Linked DNA regions of Homo sapiens: all the other regions are reported to be linked to region 1. Evidence: microRNA targets listed by miRTarBase, many of them from high-throughput screens and not tested one by one. Region 1 holds a microRNA gene; each other region holds the end of a gene's coding sequence.
What was found. Region 1 holds the annotated microRNA hsa-miR-518a-5p (CUGCAAAGGGAAGCCCUUUC, at 1,571-1,590, shown strand). A microRNA usually pairs through its seed, bases 2 to 8, with sites in the 3' UTR of a target mRNA and lowers its output. Matches are read on the target gene's strand: a 7mer-m8 pairs with bases 2 to 8, a 7mer-A1 pairs with bases 2 to 7 and ends in A, and an 8mer does both.

Region 2: the mRNA of UBE2D2 is a reported target of hsa-miR-518a-5p. Seed matches in the 3' UTR shown: 7mer-m8 at 2,935-2,941.
Region 3: the mRNA of MATCAP2 is a reported target of hsa-miR-518a-5p. Seed matches in the 3' UTR shown: 7mer-A1 at 3,824-3,830.

What each region holds. Positions count from the first base shown.
Region 1 is chr19:53,752,461-53,758,389 of GRCh38, forward strand. MIR527 (microRNA 527) reads left to right here and starts at 1,558; the gene lies at 1,558-1,642. It overlaps MIR516A1 (microRNA 516a-1), which reads left to right and starts at 4,281; the gene lies at 4,281-4,370. LOC124904765 (a long non-coding RNA gene) reads left to right here. Exons shown (of 6, transcript XR_007067334.1): 6 at 1-178. It overlaps LOC124904766 (a long non-coding RNA gene), which reads left to right and starts at 3,778. Exons shown (of 2, transcript XR_007067335.1): 1 at 3,778-5,223. It also overlaps MIR519A1 and MIR1283-2.
Region 2 is chr5:139,625,201-139,631,864 of GRCh38, forward strand. UBE2D2 (ubiquitin conjugating enzyme E2 D2) reads left to right here. Exons shown (of 7, transcript NM_003339.3): 7 at 1,556-3,234. The coding sequence ends at 1,601. Among named protein-coding and RNA genes, the nearest start is that of CXXC5, 20 kb to the right of the region's middle.
Region 3 is chr7:36,321,523-36,328,186 of GRCh38, reverse strand. It overlaps MATCAP2 (microtubule associated tyrosine carboxypeptidase 2), which reads left to right. Exons shown (of 7, transcript NM_001199706.2): 7 at 1,269-4,035. The coding sequence ends at 1,427. Among named protein-coding and RNA genes, the nearest start is that of MATCAP2, 42 kb to the left of the region's middle.

The sequences.
Region 1 (5,929 bases):
TTTAGAGTGTTACTGTTTGAGAAAAGCAACATTGAAGCTGATGCTGATCTTGGTAATAAATTTGCAGCGAATGCTTATAATCAGACTTGGATGATGTTGGGCTTCTGAGTTTTTTTTTGTTTTGTTTTGTTTAGTTTTGGGGTTTTTCTGTTTTTTGTTTTTTGTTTTTTTTTTTTTTGAGGCCGAGTCTTGCTCTTTCGCCCAGGCTGGAGTGCAGTGGCGCTATCTCGGCTCACTGCAAGTTCTGCCTCCCGGGTTCACGCCATTCTCCTGCCTCAGCCTCCTGTGTAGCTGGGACTACAGGTGCCCGCCAGCACACCCGGCTAATTCTTTGTATTTTTAGTAGAGACGGGGTTTCACCGTGTTAGCCAGGATGGTCTCGATCTCCTGACCTCGTGATCCACCCGCCTCAGCCTCCCAAAGTGCTGGGATTACAGGCGTGAGCCACCGCGTCCAGCCTTGTTATTGTTTTTGAGACTGAGTCTTGCTCTGTGGCCCAGGCTGGAGCGCAGTGGCGTGATCTCGGCTCACTGCAACCTCCATCTCCCAGGCTCAAGCAATTCTCCTGCCTCAGCCTCCTGAGTAGCTGGGATTACAGGCCTGTGCCACCATGCCCGGCTAATTATTTGTATTTTTAGTAGAGACAGGGTTTGCACCATGTTGGCCAGGCTGGTCTCGAACTCCTGACCTCAGGTAATCCACCCACGTCGATCTCCCAAAGTGCTGGGATTACAACTGTGAGCCACTGCGCCCGGCCTGTTTTTCTCTACCACAGGGTGTCTGTTGCCCAGGCTGGAGTGCGGTGGCATTTTTAACATAGATCTCTTGGGCTCGAGTGGTCCTTTTTTTTGGTTCAGTCTTGCTTTGTGACCCAGGCTGGAGGGCAGTGGCAGAAACTCTCCTCACTGCAACCTCCGCCTCCTAGGTTCAAGCCATTCTCCTGACTCAGCCTCCTGAGCAGCTGGGATTACCGGTGTGAGCCACCACACCCAGCTAATTTTTGTATTTTTATTTATTTGTTTATTTATTTATTTATTGTTGAGACGGAGTCTTGCTGTGTCTCCCAGGCTGGAGTGCAGTGGCGCGATCGTGGCTTACTGCAACCTCCTCCTCCTTGGTTCAACCAATTCTCCTGCCTCAGCCTCCTGAGAAGCTAGGATTACAGGCATGCACCACCATGCCTGGCTAATTTAGATTCCATTTTGGATGCTCCCATCAGGACTGTGTCCCTGTACTGGAACTCAGGTGAACACTTGGTTCAAAATCCGTCGCTTTTCTCTAGACATCCAGCTCAGTTCTCGGTAAAGATAAGGTATGTGTAGTAGGCATTGCTTTTTCCCTTTAGAGACAAAACTCAGGAGGATTGCCCCTTGGTGAACAAGGCTAACTTGCAGATTCTTTGAAGCAAGGAACTGGAGATGGTCCTTTTAGGGGTTTATGTTCTGGATTCCAGAAAACATGCAAACAGGGCCAATACATGCATCTTTATTTTTGTGTCCGTTTTGACCTGGTCAAGGAAAATTTCAACAAGAAACCCAGAGTGCCGGAGCAAGAAGATCTCAAGCTGTGACTGCAAAGGGAAGCCCTTTCTGTTGTCTAAAAGAAAAGAAAGTGCTTCCCTTTGGTGAATTACGGTTTGAGAAAAGCAACGTTGAAGTTGATGCTGATCTCGGTAATACATTTGCAGAGCATGCTTATCACACTTGGACGGTGGTGGGGTTCTGTTTTGGTTTTGCTTTTTTATTCTAAGACAGGGTCTGTGTTGCCCATGCTGGAGTGCGGTGGCACATCCCACCTAGGTCTCTTGGATTCAAATGGTCCTTTTTGGGGGCAGAGTCTCTCTATCACCGAGGCTGGAGTGCAGTGATCCCATCTTGGCTCACTACAACCTCCGCCTCCCAGGTTCAAGCAATTCTCCTGCTTCGGCCTCCCAAGTAGCTGAGATTTACAGGTGCCCATCCCCACACCTGGATAATATTTGGTTTTATTCATGTATTTATTTATTTTTAAGATGGAGTCTCACTGTCACCCAGACTGGAGGGCAGTGGCACGATCTCGGCTCGCTGCCACCTGCGCTTCCCTGGTTCAAGTAATGCTTCTGCCTTAGCCTCCTGAGTAGCTGGAATTACAGAAGTACACCACCACACCTGGCTACTTTTTATATTTCATTTTTAATACAGACTGGATTTCACCATGTTGGCTAGTATGATATATATTTTGTCATATATTCTTATATATATAATCATATACACACAAAATACTCTTCTGCACACGAAGAGTATTCTTATATCGCTTTGGGTTTTTTTGTTTGTGTGTTTGTTTTGTGTTTGTTTCTTTGTTTTTGAGACAACGTCTGGCTCTGTTGCTCAGGCTAAAGTGTAGTATTGCAAGCTCAGCTCACTGCAACCTCCACCTCCCACCTAAAGTCCCCTGAATTAGTGTCTACAGGCATGCACCACCACACCTGGCTCACTTTTTTTTCTGAGAAGGAATTTTGCTTTTGTCGCTCAGGCTGGAGTGCAATGGGGTGATTTCAGCTCACTGCAACCTCTGACTCCCGGCTTCAAGCAATTCTCCTGCCTCAGCCTCCCAAGTAGCTGGGATTACAGGCATGCACCACCACACCTGGCTAATTTTGTATTTTTAGTAGAGATGGGTTTCACCTTCTTTCTCAGGCTGGTCTTGAACTCCTGACCTCAAGTGATCCACCTGCCTCGACCTCCCAAAGTGCTAGGATTACAGGTGAGAGACATTGCACCTGGCCACCTAACTTTTGTAGTTTTTTTACAGACAGGGCTTCACCATATTGCCCAAGCTGGTCTCCAGCTACTGAGCTCAAGTGATGCTCCTGTCTCGGCCACTGTCCCTCACCCAAACTTGTGTATTTCTTTTCTTTTCTTTTTTTTTTTTTTTTTTTGAGATGGAGTCTGGCTCTGTCACCCAGGCTGGAGTGCAGTGGCACGATCTTGGCTCACTGCAAGCTCCGCCTCCCCAGTTCATGATATTTTTCTGCCTCAGCCTCCCAAGTAGCTGGCACTACAGGCACCCGCCACCACGCCTGGCTAATTTTTTGTATTTTTAGTGAAGACGGGGTTTCACTGGATTAGCCAGGATGGTCTTGATCTCCTGAGCTCGTGATCTGCCTGCCTTGGCCTCCCAAAGTGCTGGGATTACAGGCTTGAGCCACCGCACCCAGCTTTTTTGTTTTTTTGTTTTGTTTTTTTGAGATGGGGTCTCGCTCTGTCACCCAGCCTGGAGTGCAATGGCACGATCTCGGTTCACTGCATCCTACCCCTCCCGGGTTCAAGCGATTCTCCTGCCTCATCCTCCCAAGTAACTGGGATTACAGGTGCCCACCACCGCGCCTGGCTAATTTTTTGTATTTTTAGTAGAGACGGGGTTTCACCGTATTAGCCAGGATGGTCTTGATCTCCTGACCTCGTGATCTCCCTGCCTCAGCCTCCCAAAGTGCTGGGATTACAGGTGTGAGCCACTGCACCCGGCCTTTTTTTTTTTTTTTTTTTTTTTGAGATGGGATCTCGCTCTGTCACCCAGGCTGGAGTGCAACGGCATGATCTCAGCTCACGGCAACCTCCCCCTCCCGGGTTCAGGTGATTCTACTGCCTCAGCCTCCCAAGTAGCTGGGATTACAGGTGCCCACGACCACGCCTGGCTAATTTTTTGTATTTTTAGTAGAGATGGGGTTTCATCAAGGTGGCCAGGCTGGTCTCAAACTCCTGACCTCATGATCTACTGGCCTCGGCCTACCGAAGTGCTGGGATTACAGGCATGAGCCACCGCGCCCAGCTTCTGTATTTCTTTTCAAATTTTATTGAGGATTTTTTATGTCCTAGCCTGTGGTCTATCCTGGAGGATGTTTGTGTGTGAGACAATGTATATTCATCAACATCTTAGATTCCATTTTGATTGCTTCCGTAGAAACTGTGTGTCCTTGTGCTGGAACTCCGGTGAACACCTGGCTCAATATCCATTGCTCTTCTCTAGAAATCCAGCCCAGTTCTCTTGGTTAAATATAAGATATGTGTAGCAGGCATTGCTTTTTCTTTCCAGAGACAAAACTCAGGAGGATTGCCCCTTGATGAACAAAGCTAACCTGCTGATTCTTTGAAGCAAGTAACTGGAGATCCTCCTTTTAGGGGTTTATATTCTGGATTCCAGAAAACATGCAAACAGGGCCAATAAATGCATCTTTATGTTTCTGTCCATTTTAACTTGATCTAGGAAAATTCCAACAAAAAACCCACGGTGCTGGAGCAAGATCTCAGGCTGTGACCTTCTCGAGGAAAGAAGCACTTTCTGTTGTCTGAAAGAAAAGAAAGTGCTTCCTTTCAGAGGGTTACGGTTTGAGAAAAGCAACGTTGAAGTTGACGCTGATCTTGGTAATACATTTGCAGAGCGTGCTGATCATCAGACGTGGATAATGGTGGGGTTTTGTTTTTTATCTAAGACAGGGTGTCTGTTCCCCAGGCTGGAGTGCGGTGGCACTTCCAACTTAGATCTCTTGGGTTCAAGTGGCCCTCTTTTTGGGACAGAGTCTCACTCTGTGGCCCTGGCTGGAGTGCAGTGGCAGGAACTTGGCTCACTGCAATCTCTGCCTCCTGGGTTCAAGCAATTCTCCTGCCTCAGCCTCCGGAGCAGCTGGGGTTACAGGCTGTGCCACCATGCCCAGCTAACTTTTGCATTTTTATTATTGATTTATTGATTTATTTTTGAGACAGGGTCTGGCTCTGTCACCCAGGCTATAGGGCAGTGGTGCGATCTCGGCTCACTGCAACCTCCACCTCCCACCTCAGCCTCCTGAATACCTGTCTCCAGGCATGCACTACCACACCTGCCTAACTTTTGTATTTTTTGTATAGATGAGGTTTCACCATGTTGCCCAGGCTGGTCTCGGACCCTTGAGCTCAATTGCTCCTCCCGCCTGGGCCTCCAAAACTGCTGTGATTAATGGTGTGAGCAAGCGTGCCCTACTCTTGTGTGTTTCTGCTCAAATTTTATGGAGGAGCTTTTACATCCCAGCCTGTGGTCTATCCTGGAGAATGTTTGTGTGTGTGACAATGTATATTCTTCAACATTTTAGATTCCATTTGGATGCTCCCATCCGGACTGTGTGCCCCTGTACTGGAACTCAAGTGAACACTTGGCTCAACATCCATTGCTGTTCTCATGAATTCCAGGCCAATTGTCTTGGTTAAAGACAAGGTATGTGGGCTGGGCGTGGTGGCTCATGCCTGTAATCCCAGCACTTTGGGAGACCGAGGTGGGAGGATCACGAGGTCAGGAGTTCGAGACAAGCCTGACCAACACGGTGAAACCCATCTCTACTAAAAATACAAAAATTAGCTGGGCGTGGTGGCTCCACCAGTAATCTCAGCTACTTGGGAGGCTGAGGCAGGAGAATTGCTTGAACCCAGGAAGCGGAGGTTGCAGTGAGCTGAGATCGCGCCACTGCACTCCAGCCTGGGTGACAGAGCGAGACTTCATCTCAAAAAATAAAAAATAAAAAGGTATGTGTAGTAGGCATTGCTTTTTCTCTTTGTAGATAATACTCAGGAGGACTGCCTCTTGAACAAGGCTAACCTGCTGAGCCTTTGAAGCAAGGAACTGGAGATGGTCCTTTTAGGGGGTTATGTTCTGGATTCCAGAAAACATGCAAATAGGGACAATGAATGCATCTTTATTTTTCTGTCCATTTTAACCTGGTCAAGGAAAATTTCAACAAGAAACCCAGAGTGCTGGAGCAAGAAGATCTCAAGCTGTGAGTCTACAAAGGAAAGCGCTTTCTGTTGTCTGAAAGAAAAGAAATCGCTTCCCTTTGGAGTGTTACGGTTTGAGAAAAGCAGCGTTGAAGTTGATGCTGATCTCGGTAATACATTTGCAGAGCATGCTTATCACACTTGGACGGTGG
Region 2 (6,664 bases), not on the chromosome of region 1:
GTACATGCCACTACACCTTTCCAGCCTCCCCAGTAGCTGGGACTGCTAGTACATGCCACTACACCTGGCTAATTTGTTTTTTTTTTTTTTTTTTTGTAGAGACAGGATCTCACTATGTTGCACAGGCTGGTCTCTAATTCCTGGCCTCAAGCAGGCCTTCTGCCTCAGCCCCCCAAAGTGCTGCTGTTACAGGCATGAGTTACCGTGCAAGGCCAGCATACCCACCCCCACCCCCCCCCCTTTTTTTTTTTTTTTTTTTTTGAGGCAGGGTCTTGCTCTGTTGCCCGGACTGGAATGCAGTGGCACAATCACAGCTCACTGTAACCTCAACCTCCCAGGCTCAAGTAGTCCTCCCATCTGAGCTTCCCAAGTAGCTGGGACCACAGGCAGATGCCATCACATCCAGCTAATTTTTTTTTTTTTGAGACAGAGTCTTGCTCCGTTGCCCAGGTGGAATGCAGTGGCACAATCTTGGCTCACTGCAGCCTCTGCCTCCCAGGCTCAAGTGATTCCTGTGCCTCAGCCTCCTGAGTAGCTGGGATTACAGGCGCACATCACCATGCCTGGCTAATTTTTGTGTTTTCAGTAGAGACGGGATTTTGCCATGTTGGCCAGGCTGGTCTGGAACTCCTGACCTCAAGTGATCCAGCTGCTCCAGCCTCCCAAAGTGCTGGGATTACAGGCGTGAGCCACCACACCCGGCCTAGCACCCGTTTTTTAATAGGAGAATTATAGAATCATTTGCTCTGCTTACTTTATTCAAATGTTCTTCTGAAGCAATAAACCCATTCATTTTGTCAACCAAATTGTTGAAATTAGTTCTACCAGAACCAATTGTTTTATTGATATGAAAGGAAAGTTTGGTTTTTTTTCCCCCTTTTTTTTTGAGACAGAGCCTCACTCTGTCACCCAGGCTATGGTACAGTATTGCAATCTCAGCTCACTGCAACCTCTGCCTCCTGAGCTCAAACGATCTTCCCACCTCAGCCTCCTGAGTAGCTGGGACTATAGTCATGCGCCACCACACCCTGCTAATTTTTGTATTTTTTTGTAGAGACAGGGTTTTATCATGTTGCCCAGGCTGGTGTGAAACGCCTGGGCTCAAGTGATCCACCCGACTCAGCCTCCCAAAGTGCTGGGATTACAGGTGTGAGCCAACATGCCCAGCCTTCTGTCGGTTTAATCATTATTAGTATATGAGTTCAAGAACTATGTAATGTAGAATCATATAATTTCAAGTACTTTAAATGAATGAATTGAGTGGACATCTTTTGTAGAAATAGGCCAATCAAGTATGGAATAAGGTATATGCCAACAAATACTAAAATTTAATCAGAACCCTCTATAAGTAGCAATTAAAGGAGACTTTCACATTTTACAGCTCCTTCCCATTATCATTGAATTAATCCTTATCAGAAATTTGGGATAGAAAGGGGCCTTTCCTTGAATGTCCTATAAGCTACTCTCTTCAAGTTACTTGATGGGATAATGAATGGAATCTGTTGCTTACTGACTCCACACCTATGTTAAGCCAAGCTTCTCTTTGTGTGTACAGGTACAACAGAATAGCTCGGGAATGGACTCAGAAGTATGCGATGTAATTAAAGAAATTATTGGATAACCTCTACAAATAAAGATAGGGGAACTCTGAAAGAGAAAGTCCTTTTGATTTCCATTTGACTGCTTTCTATGAGCCCACGCCTCATCTTCCCCTGTGCACATGTTTACCTGATACAGCAGTGCTGCGTGTTGTACATACTTGGAACAACAAACTAGAAATACTGTACTTCTGTACCAACATTGCCTCCTAGCAGAGAAGTGTGTGTGTGACAAGCCAGTTCTACAGGCATTACCTAGGTGTGAGACTAAAAGCTTTTCTTATTGACTTAAATTTGGATAACAGCAAGGTGTGAGGGGGGTGGTGGGTATGGTGTGTGCTTGGATGGGAAAGAAAAGGCTCCACTCACCTATAGGAGATTATTTTTAAGTGGAATCCATTTAAACTCAAAACAGTTATGAAAAGCAAGGTGAAGAACATGAAGCTGTGTCTGTATTCATTTTATTCCGAAGGAGCTACGTCTTAGGTGAAAGTTATGACCAACCAGATTAAACTCTACCCACATCCTGCATTTTAAGGTCTAAGTTTAACTGGTCAACATTTAAATGGATTGGAGCTATTAGTACATCAAGTGTGATGGGCTTTGTTCCCAACTCTTTTACATCTCCCTACCCCTTCAACCTTTGGCCTTTCAGCCCTTCTTTCTCTCTTCCATATTCTTTGGTTTGTATGTGGTTTCTCAGTTAATACATAGCTAATAGCTCTTATTTTTCTTATGTTTTTAACCGCTTAGGTCTATTTGGATGTAAGGGTGAAAATTCATTTGATGGAAATACTTGTGTATATTTAAAGACCCAATTGCTCCTCTGGAGCTTGTACTTTCAAGAATGATTAATCTGTGTAATAAACTGGTTACTACAGTCATTACATATAATTTTGTGTGAATAGGCTTTTTCATTTTTAAGAAGTTTGTCTAGCTGAGATTAGTGGTGGATTTTCTCCCACTTCTGAAATGTTCATTTATACTGGTTGCATTTTAAGATCATGAAACAATTCCAGTTACATTGTAAAAAGGATATCTTACGAGTAATTTTATTGAACAAGTTAGAGGCATAAGCTTAAGAGCATTTCCATGAAACAACACATGCAGCATTCCAGGAACTTGATTGTTAAATTCAATAAGAAATTTGCTTTATTAATGAAACTAAGCTGCATTTCATCAAAACCTTGTGACATTCCCTTGGTACATAGGACATAAAACACAGAGGCATTGCTATTTGGTAAGTTAAGCTTCTGTGATTGTAATTATAAAAGAGCAACATTGACCAAACCTGGGAAACAAGAGCACAGTCTTGTTTGGAGAGTCTACATAATTACTTTGCACTAACATTTGCAGGATGTTCACACAATTTTAAATTGTACTGTATGTGGCTTTTTGAAGTCTTCCCTTGACCCTAGTAAAATATAGCTTGAAACTTGTAAACAACTGTGTTTGCCAGAAACATCATTCATGTGAACTAGGCAAGTTACCTTTTTTCCCCCCTTCTTTTCCTAATTGTAAACTAGGCCAACCTGAAAGCCATGGCTGATGCTCTAGCCATCAGGTTCTTTCAAATGCATCTTTACACTCTTGCACAAAAGTTAAGGAATAAATGTCCACTGCTTTTGGTTTTAAACTTGTTCACCTTGTCTTATCTCTCACTGTCACTGCTCCTCCACCTTGGAACTTGTGTGATAAAACCCAAAACCTCTTACAGTTCTCTTATAAGCATTTCAAGCATCTCTTATTAGCATCCTTGACTTTGCAGAAAAGGCTTAACTGTTAACAGTTGTGGGGAAAGGAGTTAGAATTTAGCTTAAGCCTAAAATCACCCTGTATTCTCAGTATTATGGGCAAGTGGGACTTCATCTTTTTTTTTTTTTTTTTTTTTTTTTAAGAGAGGGACAGGGTCTCATTCTCTTGCCTAAGCTGGAGTGCAGTCGGAGTCATGACAGCACAGCTCACTGCAGCCTCAACCTTCTAGGCTCGAACAATCCCCCTACCTCAACCTCCCAAGTTGCTGGGACTTATGGTACATGCCACCACACCTGGCTAATTTTTAAATTTTTTTTAGAGACAGGAGTCTCACTATGTTGCCCAAGCTGGTCCTGAACTCCTAGGCTCAAGTGATCCTCTTGTCTCAGCCTCCCAAAGTGCTGGGACTAGAGACAGCCACCATACCCAGCCTTCCATCAATTATTGGCTTGCTATTAACTACATACTGTTGACCGTGGGTCAGTTGCACAGATCCTGAAAGCTCATTCTGTATTTGCCTGTCATCTTAGAGAGCAGCCAGCTTATTACCATTTATTAGATCATAATATGGATATTTTCACAAGAGTGTTCTTAAGTATTTTTAAGTGCCAAATGAAAGCCATCCTCCAGGTGTGCAGGTGCCAATTGAAGGGGTTTGGATGGTCACAAACAACATTAGGCCCTTGAATGGGGTTTGGTCTTGCCCATTTGAGTATGAAGCTTCTTTGGTCCAGTCTGTGTATATGTGCCTGGCCAGAAAGAAAGCCCAGTGAGAGAAGCCACCTTTCCCACTCACCAAAAACAACAACAACAACAAAAAATCCCTCAGGGTTGTTTTCATCTGGACCACATTGCTCTTCACAGAAGTTTCTATGACTTTGTCGTATGTAAAATCCAGTCTGTAGCAACCTTGATTATCTTGGAAAAGTTACAGGAGAACGTCAAGTGTATGGTTTCCTTTTGTTTGCTTCTTAATAGCCCAAAGTACTTTGTCAAGTTAAAGCTGGGGCAGTGTCTTTTGGTAAAATGAAGTCACTTCAGATACTTATATGCTTTGCTATTGGCGAATCAGTAGTCAAAGGTATCATTGTCCTGCGAGTTTATGCACTTTGAGTAGTACAGAGACTTGGAAGGAGGGCGGTAGGGGTGGGGAGAGAGAAGTTAGGAAGGTCTGTGAAGAGAAGGAAAAGGTAGTTGTCAGAGAGAGACCCTTTCTCTACACTAACCTAGCAATAGAGGCCTTCTTTTTCCACTTCCAACTGCTAAAATACTCTGCTTTCTGAATCATTCCTCTTTGTTTCAACAAGTTATTTTGAGACCTGGGTAGCTTGTCAGGAGAAATGGATTATTTCTAAATTATGGCTGGAATGCCTATAAACTGTCCCTTGTCTGTAATTAAGGTGAAACTCTGGCTTTGTCTCTGTGTGCTGTATGGCACCCCTTAACTACCCAGGGTAAGTTTTGAAGAGGAGAACTCTCAGCTGGGCCCTGTGGCTCATGCCTGTAATCCCAGCATTTTGGGATGCCAAGGTGGGCGGATCACCTGAGGTCAGGAGTTCAAGACCAGCCTGACCAACATGGAGGAACCTCGTGTCTACTAAAAACACAAAATTAGCCGGGCATGGTGGCACATGTCTGTAATCCCAGCTACTCAGGAGGCTGAGGCAGGAGAATCGCTTGAATCCGGGAGGCGGAGGTTGTGGTGAGCCGAGATCGCGCCATTGCACTCCAGCCTGGGCGACAAGAGCAAAACTCAGTCTTAAAAAAAAAACAAAAAAAACTCTCTTCTCATTCCCAGGTCTTCAGGATTATAAACACATCTTTCCTTCCTTCCAAATCAGGAGTAAGCATTTTTATTACTCCTACAGAAAACTGTAACTAGTGTTAGGAATCCATCTCCTTTTGATTTCCTCATTTTCCCTTTATGAAACACTATTTCAAGTGATGGGTTATTTTGGTGAGTGATGTTAGGCAGGAGAAAGCAGGTTTGTTTTTTGTTGTTGTTGTTTGGAGACAGAGTCTCACTGTCGCCCAGGTTGGAGTGTAGTGGTGCGATCTTGGCTCACTGCAACCTCCACCTCCCAAGTTTAAGTGATTTTCCTGCCTCAGCCTCCTGAGTAGCTGAGATTATAGGCACATGCCACCCACGCCTGGCTAATTTTTGTATTTTTAGTAGAGACGGTTTCACCATGTTGTCCAGGCTGGTCTTGAACTCCTGACTTCAGGTGATCTGCCCACCTTGGCCTCCCAAAGTGCTGGGATTACAGGCATGAGCCACCACACCCAGCCAAGAAAGCAGATTTTTAATATGAAAATAACTGAAGGTAGCAAACTATTTGCACTATACATCCAGCAAGAGGAAATAGACTTCCTTTGGGGCACTCCTGGAGCTAGTCCCTTCTATTTTCCTTTTCTTCCCTTCCTTTCCCTTTCTTTCTCTTCCTTTCCCTCCCTTCCCCTGCCCTTTGCCTGCCTGCCTGCCTGCCTCCCTCCCTCCTTCCCCACTTTCCTTTTTCTTTCTTTACTTTCCTTCTTTCTCTTTTTCTTTCTCTCTTTTCTCTTTTTTTGTGTGTGGTTTTTTTTTTTTTTTTTTTTTTTTTTTTGAGAGAGGGTCTCACTTTTTTGCCCAGGCTAGAATGCAGTGGTGCAAACATGGCTCACTGCAGCCTCACACTCCTGAGCTCAAGCAGTCCACCCACCTCGGCCTCCCAAAGTGCTGGGATTACAGGCATGAGCCACCTCGCCCAGCCTATTTTCTTTTATATTGTGCATGCACTTAGATGAAAACTGGCTTTCTCCATCCCACAAAAACCTTCTTTAAGTGTTTCCCTGGCACTATAACCTTTTTTAATCAGGACTGGTATAAGTGGTTGATATTCAGGCCCCTCAGTATATTTCCAGACCAATTTCTCAGATGGGCTTAGAAATAGGGAAATGAGACGGGATCACATTGTCAGGGTTACTATTCATGAAGCAATTCCTTCATTGCTGGCATATTTTACCTTAGTCAATGTAAGGAGAAAAGCTCAATGGTTAGGACTAAGTAAGCCTTTAAGGCCTTTGTCCTCTGGCTGAATGTATAATACAATCACCAACCAGCTTTGCTCTTTCTATGTCTACTCCTGGTCTGGGTAAGGCAAAGGCAGACATTTTTGTGATGAGCAGTCACTTTTCATTAAATTAAACTATTTGTGGATCTTTATCTGATCAGAGACACAGCGTAATCTGCCTCTTAGCAGATGTAAAACTATATGAATACCTTAGTGCCAAGACAGCAGCTTAATAGTTTTCCTTGATTGAGTGGTGGTTTG
Region 3 (6,664 bases), not on the chromosome of region 1:
TAAATGGGAAGGATCGCTTGAGCCCAGGAGTTCGAGGCTACACTGAGCTGTGATTGCATCACTGCACTCCTGCTAGGGTGACAGAGAAAGACCCTATCTCTTAAAAAAAATTTAAGAATAAAGATAATTTATAGAACTTTAAAAGCTTCATCCTTAAACCTAATATAAGTACCTGTGAGAGACTAGCTTCTTAAATAGGAGAATTAAAAAGATGTGAACTTTTTTACAAAAATTCAAAATAAAAGCAAGAAGATGTAATACAAATCACAAATCATTATGTATCCTAAATTAAAGAGAAATAGGAACTTAATATATGGATTGAGTATCTCTTCTCTAAAATGCTTGGGACTAGAAGTGTTTTGGATTTTGGATTTTTTTGAATTTTGGAGTATTTACATTCTTTACTAGTTGAGCATCCGAAATCCCCAAATTGGAAATTCCACATGCTCCAATGAGTATTTTCTGTGAGCATCACGTGGGTGCTCCAAAAGTTTGCAGCATTTCAGATTTTGCATTTTTGGATTTGGGATGCTCACCCTGTATAATTGTGCTAATTTTTCTAATTTAATAATATGTCATTTATATTCTAGTTATTTTGATTCTTTTATTTCGATTTAGCCAGAAGACTTGTTTGGTTTTAGAGTCTCTCTCACACACAAATATATTAAGTATGGCTGTCTAATTTTTAGACAAACTGAGTAGGTTCAAGGTAGAGTATTAAATCAAATTTGACTTTTTAAAATAATCTTTTAGGCTGGGCACGGTGGCTCACGCCTGTAATCCCAGCACTTTGGGAGGCCAAGGTGGGTGGATCACCTGAGGTCAGGAGTTCGAGACCAGCCTGGCTAATGAAACATCATCTCTACTAAAAATACAAAAAATTAGCCAGGTGTGGTGGCGGGCGCCTGTAATCCCAGCTACTCAGGAGGCTGAGGCAGGAGAATCACCTGAACCCGGGAGGTGGAGGTTGCAGTGAGCCAAGATCACGCCACTGCACTCCAGCCTGGGCAACAAGAATGAAACTCCATCTCAGGAAAAAAATAATAATAATACTCTTTTAATATGGTCATGGTATAAGGGGCAGAGAAATACATTATTATTTAACACAGTGAAGAAAATGTAAGTCACTGATTTTTGTTACTTTGCAGCTATTAAAATAATTTGACAAATGATCTGTATACTTTCATTTAAGGCCCAGGGAAGAAATTCATCCTTAAAATGTACATTGTAGTTACATTTTTAATTTAACTCATCTTCCTTTTTTTCAGGTTTCTTATGAAGATGTGGATCGCTTAAAAGGATTGGCAGTTACCGAAAACATGAGGGTCCCTCATTTCCTGCAGGACCATGGCCGATATATGGAACACTTAGAGAAGATCATGGAAGTGAATGAACTGACTGACAGGGAACTGAAAGATCTTATATAGTAATTAGCGTTCTGGCAAACATAGCTAAGCTATGCCTCCATGTATATTACCAGTTAGGTGCAGTTAGCACCAGAAGATTTATAAAAGAAGAAAGACTACTTGTGTTTTCTGAAGAAGGGTCTTCAGTATTCAGCGGAATTTTTAGGTTAAGTACAGATCTTAAACTATTTCCCTAAAATGTTTCTATAGGTTGCAGGGGGAAGTTATTCCTATTTTCTGAATCTCGACAGAGTCAGATGAAAATACTACTGCTGAGCATTTTTGAAGACTCTTGGTCAAATTGCATGATAAATTTCTGCCTGAGCAGTAAGCACTGGCCTAGTGCTTCTGCCTAAATATGGAGGTCAGCTCCAACTGGAGACTGGCTGAATTCCATTGCTGTTCAGACTCCAAAGTTATATTTTATTTGATAAATAATGGTAATTATTCTCCTTTGAAAAATTAGTTTTGTGTTGCTCCAAAAAGCTAGCTATATATCTCAGCTTTCTTATTTCTTTTATATGTTGAGGGATTTTAAAGGGAGAGGAAAAGCAATTTGAAAATTTTTCATTAAGTGTTTTATTTTAACATTATTGTTTCACCTTATCAGCTTATAGGAACTAAATTAGAGAATCACCTCTTTTTGTCCGGTTATCTCTTAACTATGTTTTCATTTGCTGAAACATATTGTACCCTTTTAAATTTTTTACAGAGTTTTAACGTCTTTTCCACTGCATCCTTTATAAAAATAAGTACAAATTCCAGAGAGGTTTTCCTACACAAATACAAAATAATTGGGGAAGGGCTACTCACCTTTTTTATGAAACAGAATATGTAACAAGCAGAGGACAAATAGACTGACCTGGTTAAACGTAGGTTCTGGATGTTGATGGGTAGCACCTGCAGTAAACTTGACCATGCTCTGAAAAAAGAAATTTCTGGGTATTGATGGTTTATAAAGCCAGCTTTGTGCTATTGGTTCAGTATATTTTATCAAATCTTTGACTTCATCAACCCAGTAATGACATAGTTTAAATTTTAAAATGAGAGTTCTGTTTTGCTGTATTTCTCCTGCTAGCCTAGCTTTGTATTTTATCATCAGCTTCAGTATATACTTGTATATATATACCTGGATTCAAATGGTTCTTCATACAACTTAATGATCAGAAAGAATGCTGCTGTAAACACCCCACTCAAGATTGCTGCTGGAATTTCTACCCAAAGCTGTCTGAGAGTTTATCTTTACCTCAGTGCAGGCTTAAATAATGGTGCTAATACTGGTAGATATATACTGTGAAGCCTGGTTCACATTCATGCTAGAAAATGATTTTGGGAAATCTTTTATAGGAGAGGTTACATGATTTTTCTCTTTCACATATCTAGAAGGACTTGCCTCAAAGAAGAATGTTGCAGCAAACAGGATATACTCTAGCTGGTGCCCAAAGGTTCTTGCAAAACCATGAATCTTGCTTTTAGCAGTAAAGGGCCAGACACTTTGGAGCATTGAAAGGCCTTAGCCCCTGCTCCCCAACTACGTGCCATGCTGGGTAGTGTGTATCCTGTACATCTGTGTGCCAGGCTGGGGCAGACTGTGCCAATGCTCACCGAACACTAGAATCTGCTCTTACACCTCTAGCATGTATCTCGTTGTAGCAGAGTTGTGCACTTTCTCAGCATTGTGTAGTGTTTTCTAATTGCATCTAAAAACTTATCAAAAGTGATTGTGAAAACAGTGTCTTAGAAGTATAAACAGAAATGGCAATATTTATGTCCTGTGATTCAAGCCCAAAGGTTATAAATTCAACTTTCACAGGGAATAGCACTGCTAATCTTACTTTATGATTTAAATATAAAGGAAAATCACAGCAGCCTTAATTTCCTGTTGGTCGGATCATTTGCAGCAGTTCTAGTTCCTGACTTTTAAAATGGATGAAATTTTCTCTTTGTCTGATTTGGAAAAGGAACTGCTTTTTTGCCTTACTGCTTTGGTATAAGGATGAAAAACATGAGCACTCTGCAGACAAAATGACCTTAAATCACATTGATTAAGATATTTTAAAAGTTAGCAGTGAACCAAAAGTAGTTTCAGATTAGCAGAAATAAAGAGCTTTAAGTTTTAAAAGTTGAGATTGAATATTTAATGAAAGTTTATTAATTCTTTTTCCAGGAATAGCAGTAAGGTCAGTTTTTTTCCCTAAAATAAAAAGTTTTAATAAACAGAAAATTATAGCAACAGTACTTAGGAGAATAGTTGAAGATTGTATTAATTTTAATTATAATAGTTATTTGTCATAGGCTATTGATGATTAGAATTTCATTAGTTTTGTCCACTATAATTTTAAAAATAGTTGTGTCAAATACAAATTCTGGTAAACTGTTAGGTTTTAACACCAGACAGTATTCAAAGGAAATTAATGTTTGCAAACATAAATCCATAGTCTTCATTTCTTTATATTGTCACCTTTGTAAAAGTGTTTAAAATTTGTATTGTTTGTTTTGTATATCTTTGGGCATCTTGTGTCTAGCTATAATAAAAAGAAACGGTGCCAAGGTTCTCAGATGAAGTGTGTGGCTATGTATGCATGTAACTTGGTTTCTTTGAAAACCCAATTATATTTGTATTGTGGTGTTTCTTGTTTTTTATTTTGTGATAATTGTCAAAAGGACATTAATCATGCTTGTCTTCTAGTGCCGTTACTTCTTAGAAAAATATTATATTTACCACACTTCACCTTTTCCCTAATTATTTTAGCTTATACTCTCATGGGACATATGGAGAAAGGAAAAGGAGAGAGGTTGCATTAGTCTATTCTCATGCTGCTAATAAAGACATACTCGAAACTGGGTAATTTATAAAGGAAAGAGGTTTAATGGACTCATAGTTCCACATGGCAGGAGAGGCCTCACAATCATGGTGGAAGATGAAGGAAGAGCAAAGTGATGTCTTACATGGCGGCAGGCAAGAGAGCATGTGCAGGGGAACTCCCCTTTATAAAACCATCAGATCTCATGAGACTTATTCACTGTCATAAGAACAGCATAGGAAAGACTTGCCCCCATGACGTAATTACCTCGCACCAGGTCCCTCCCATGACACGTGGGAATCTTGGGAGCTACAATTCAAGATGAGATTTGGGTGGGGACACAGCCAAACCATATCAGAGGGACAATTTTTTTTCTTTTTTTGAGACGGAGTTTCACTCTTGTTGTCCAAGCTGGAGTGCAATGGTGCGATCTCGGCTCACTGCAACCTCCACCTCCTGGGTTCAGGTGATTCTTCTGCCTCAGCCTCCCAAGCAGCTAGGATTACAGGCATCCGCCACTGTGCCTGGCTAATTTTTTTGTATTTTTAGTTTCACCATGTTGGCCAGGCTGCTCTCAAACTCCTGATTTCAGGTGATCCACCTGCCTTTGCCTCCCAAAGTGCTGGGATTACAGGCATGGGCCACCATGCCTGGCCTCAGAGGGACAATTTTGTCTTAAGGTACTATCCTGTTCATTTAATAAACTTTTATGCAGAACGTATCAAGCAGGACCTGTGCTGATTACCAGAGATCCTCTGGTGAATAAGAGAAGAGAAGAGAAGAAGCACAGAAGAAGGTTATGGCACAGCCACATTCCCTTGACCAAAAAGTGCTACAGAAAAAATGTACACTCTGGTCAGTGGGCCTGCCTGTGTGTTTGAAGCAGAGGGGAAGATAATTTGCTAAATGGTGATTGTTCACAGGATTTTATTACTGCTTTTTGCACAGGATTTTATTACTGCTTTTTGCAAGGCTTATGTTTGGAATAAAAGCACCTTCCCAGGGGAAGTAGTAGACCAGGAATGCAGTTGCCTGGGTCATCATAGGCCTGTGGGAGATCCCCTGAGACCTCCTGCAGATGCCCATGGGAGCCAACACTGTATCTTTAAGAAGATGAGCATGAAGCCAGGATGGAGAGAAGAGTGTGGTGCCCTCACCCATCAGGGGCAAGTAACCAGGTATAATAGTTTTCATGCTGCTGATAAAGACATACCTGAGACTGGGCAATTTCCAAAAGAAAGAAGTTTATTGTACTTACAGTTCCACGTGGCTGGGGAGGCCTCACAATCATGGTGAAAGGTGAAGGTGAAAAGCCCGTGGTGAAAGGTGAAGGTGAAAAGCCCGTCTCACATGGCAGCAGACAAGAGAAGAGAGTTTGTGCAGGGAAACTCCCCCTTATAAAACCATCAGATCTCGTGAGACTTATTCACTACCACGAGAACAGCATGGAAAAGACCTGCCCCCATGATTCAATTACCTCCCACCAAGTCCCTCCCACAACACGTGAGAATTCAAGATGAGATTTGGGTGGAGACCCATCCAAACAATATCATTCCGCCCTGGCCTCTCCCAAATCGCATGTCCTCACATTTCAAAACCAATCATGCCTTCCCAGTAGTCCCCCAAAGTCTTATTTCAGCATTAACTCAAAAGTCCACAGTCCAAAGTCTCATCCGAGACAAGGCAAGTCCCTTCCTCCTATGAGCCTGTAAAATCAAAATCAAGTTAGTTACTTCCTAGATGCAATGGAGATACAGGCATTGGGTAAATACAGCCATTCCAAATGGGAGAAATTGGCCAAAACAAAGGGGTGACAGGCCCCATGCAAGTCTGAAATCTAGTGGGCAGTCAAATCTTAAATCTCCAAAATTGTCTCCCTTGACTCCATGTCTCACACCGAGGTCACATTGATGCACGAGATGGGCTCCCATGGCCTTGGGTAGTTTCACCCCTGTGGCTTTGCGGTCCCCCATCTGGCTGCTTTCACTAGCTGGCGTTGAATGTCTGTGGCTTCTCCATGTGCAAGCTATCGGTGGATCTACCATTCTGGAGTCTGGAGGACGGTAGCCCTCTTCTTACAGCTCCACTAGGTGGTGACCCGGTAGGGACTCTGTTGAGGCTCCCACCCCACATTTGCCTTCTGCACTGCCCTAGCAGAGGTTCTCCATGAGGGACCTGCCCCTGCAGCAAACTTCTGCCTGGGCATCCAGGCATTTTCATACATCCTCTGAAATCTACGCAGAGGTTCCCTAACCTCAATTCTTGAACATGTGGGAATTCAAGATGAGATCTGGGTGGGGACACAGCCAAACCATATGACCAGGCTTTGAATCCACACAACATAGAAGCTGCCAAGGCTTGGGGCTTCCACCATCTGAAGCAATAGCCCAAGCTGTGCCTTGGCCCCTTTTAGTCATCGCTGGAGCAGCTGAGATGCAGGGCATCAAGTCCCTA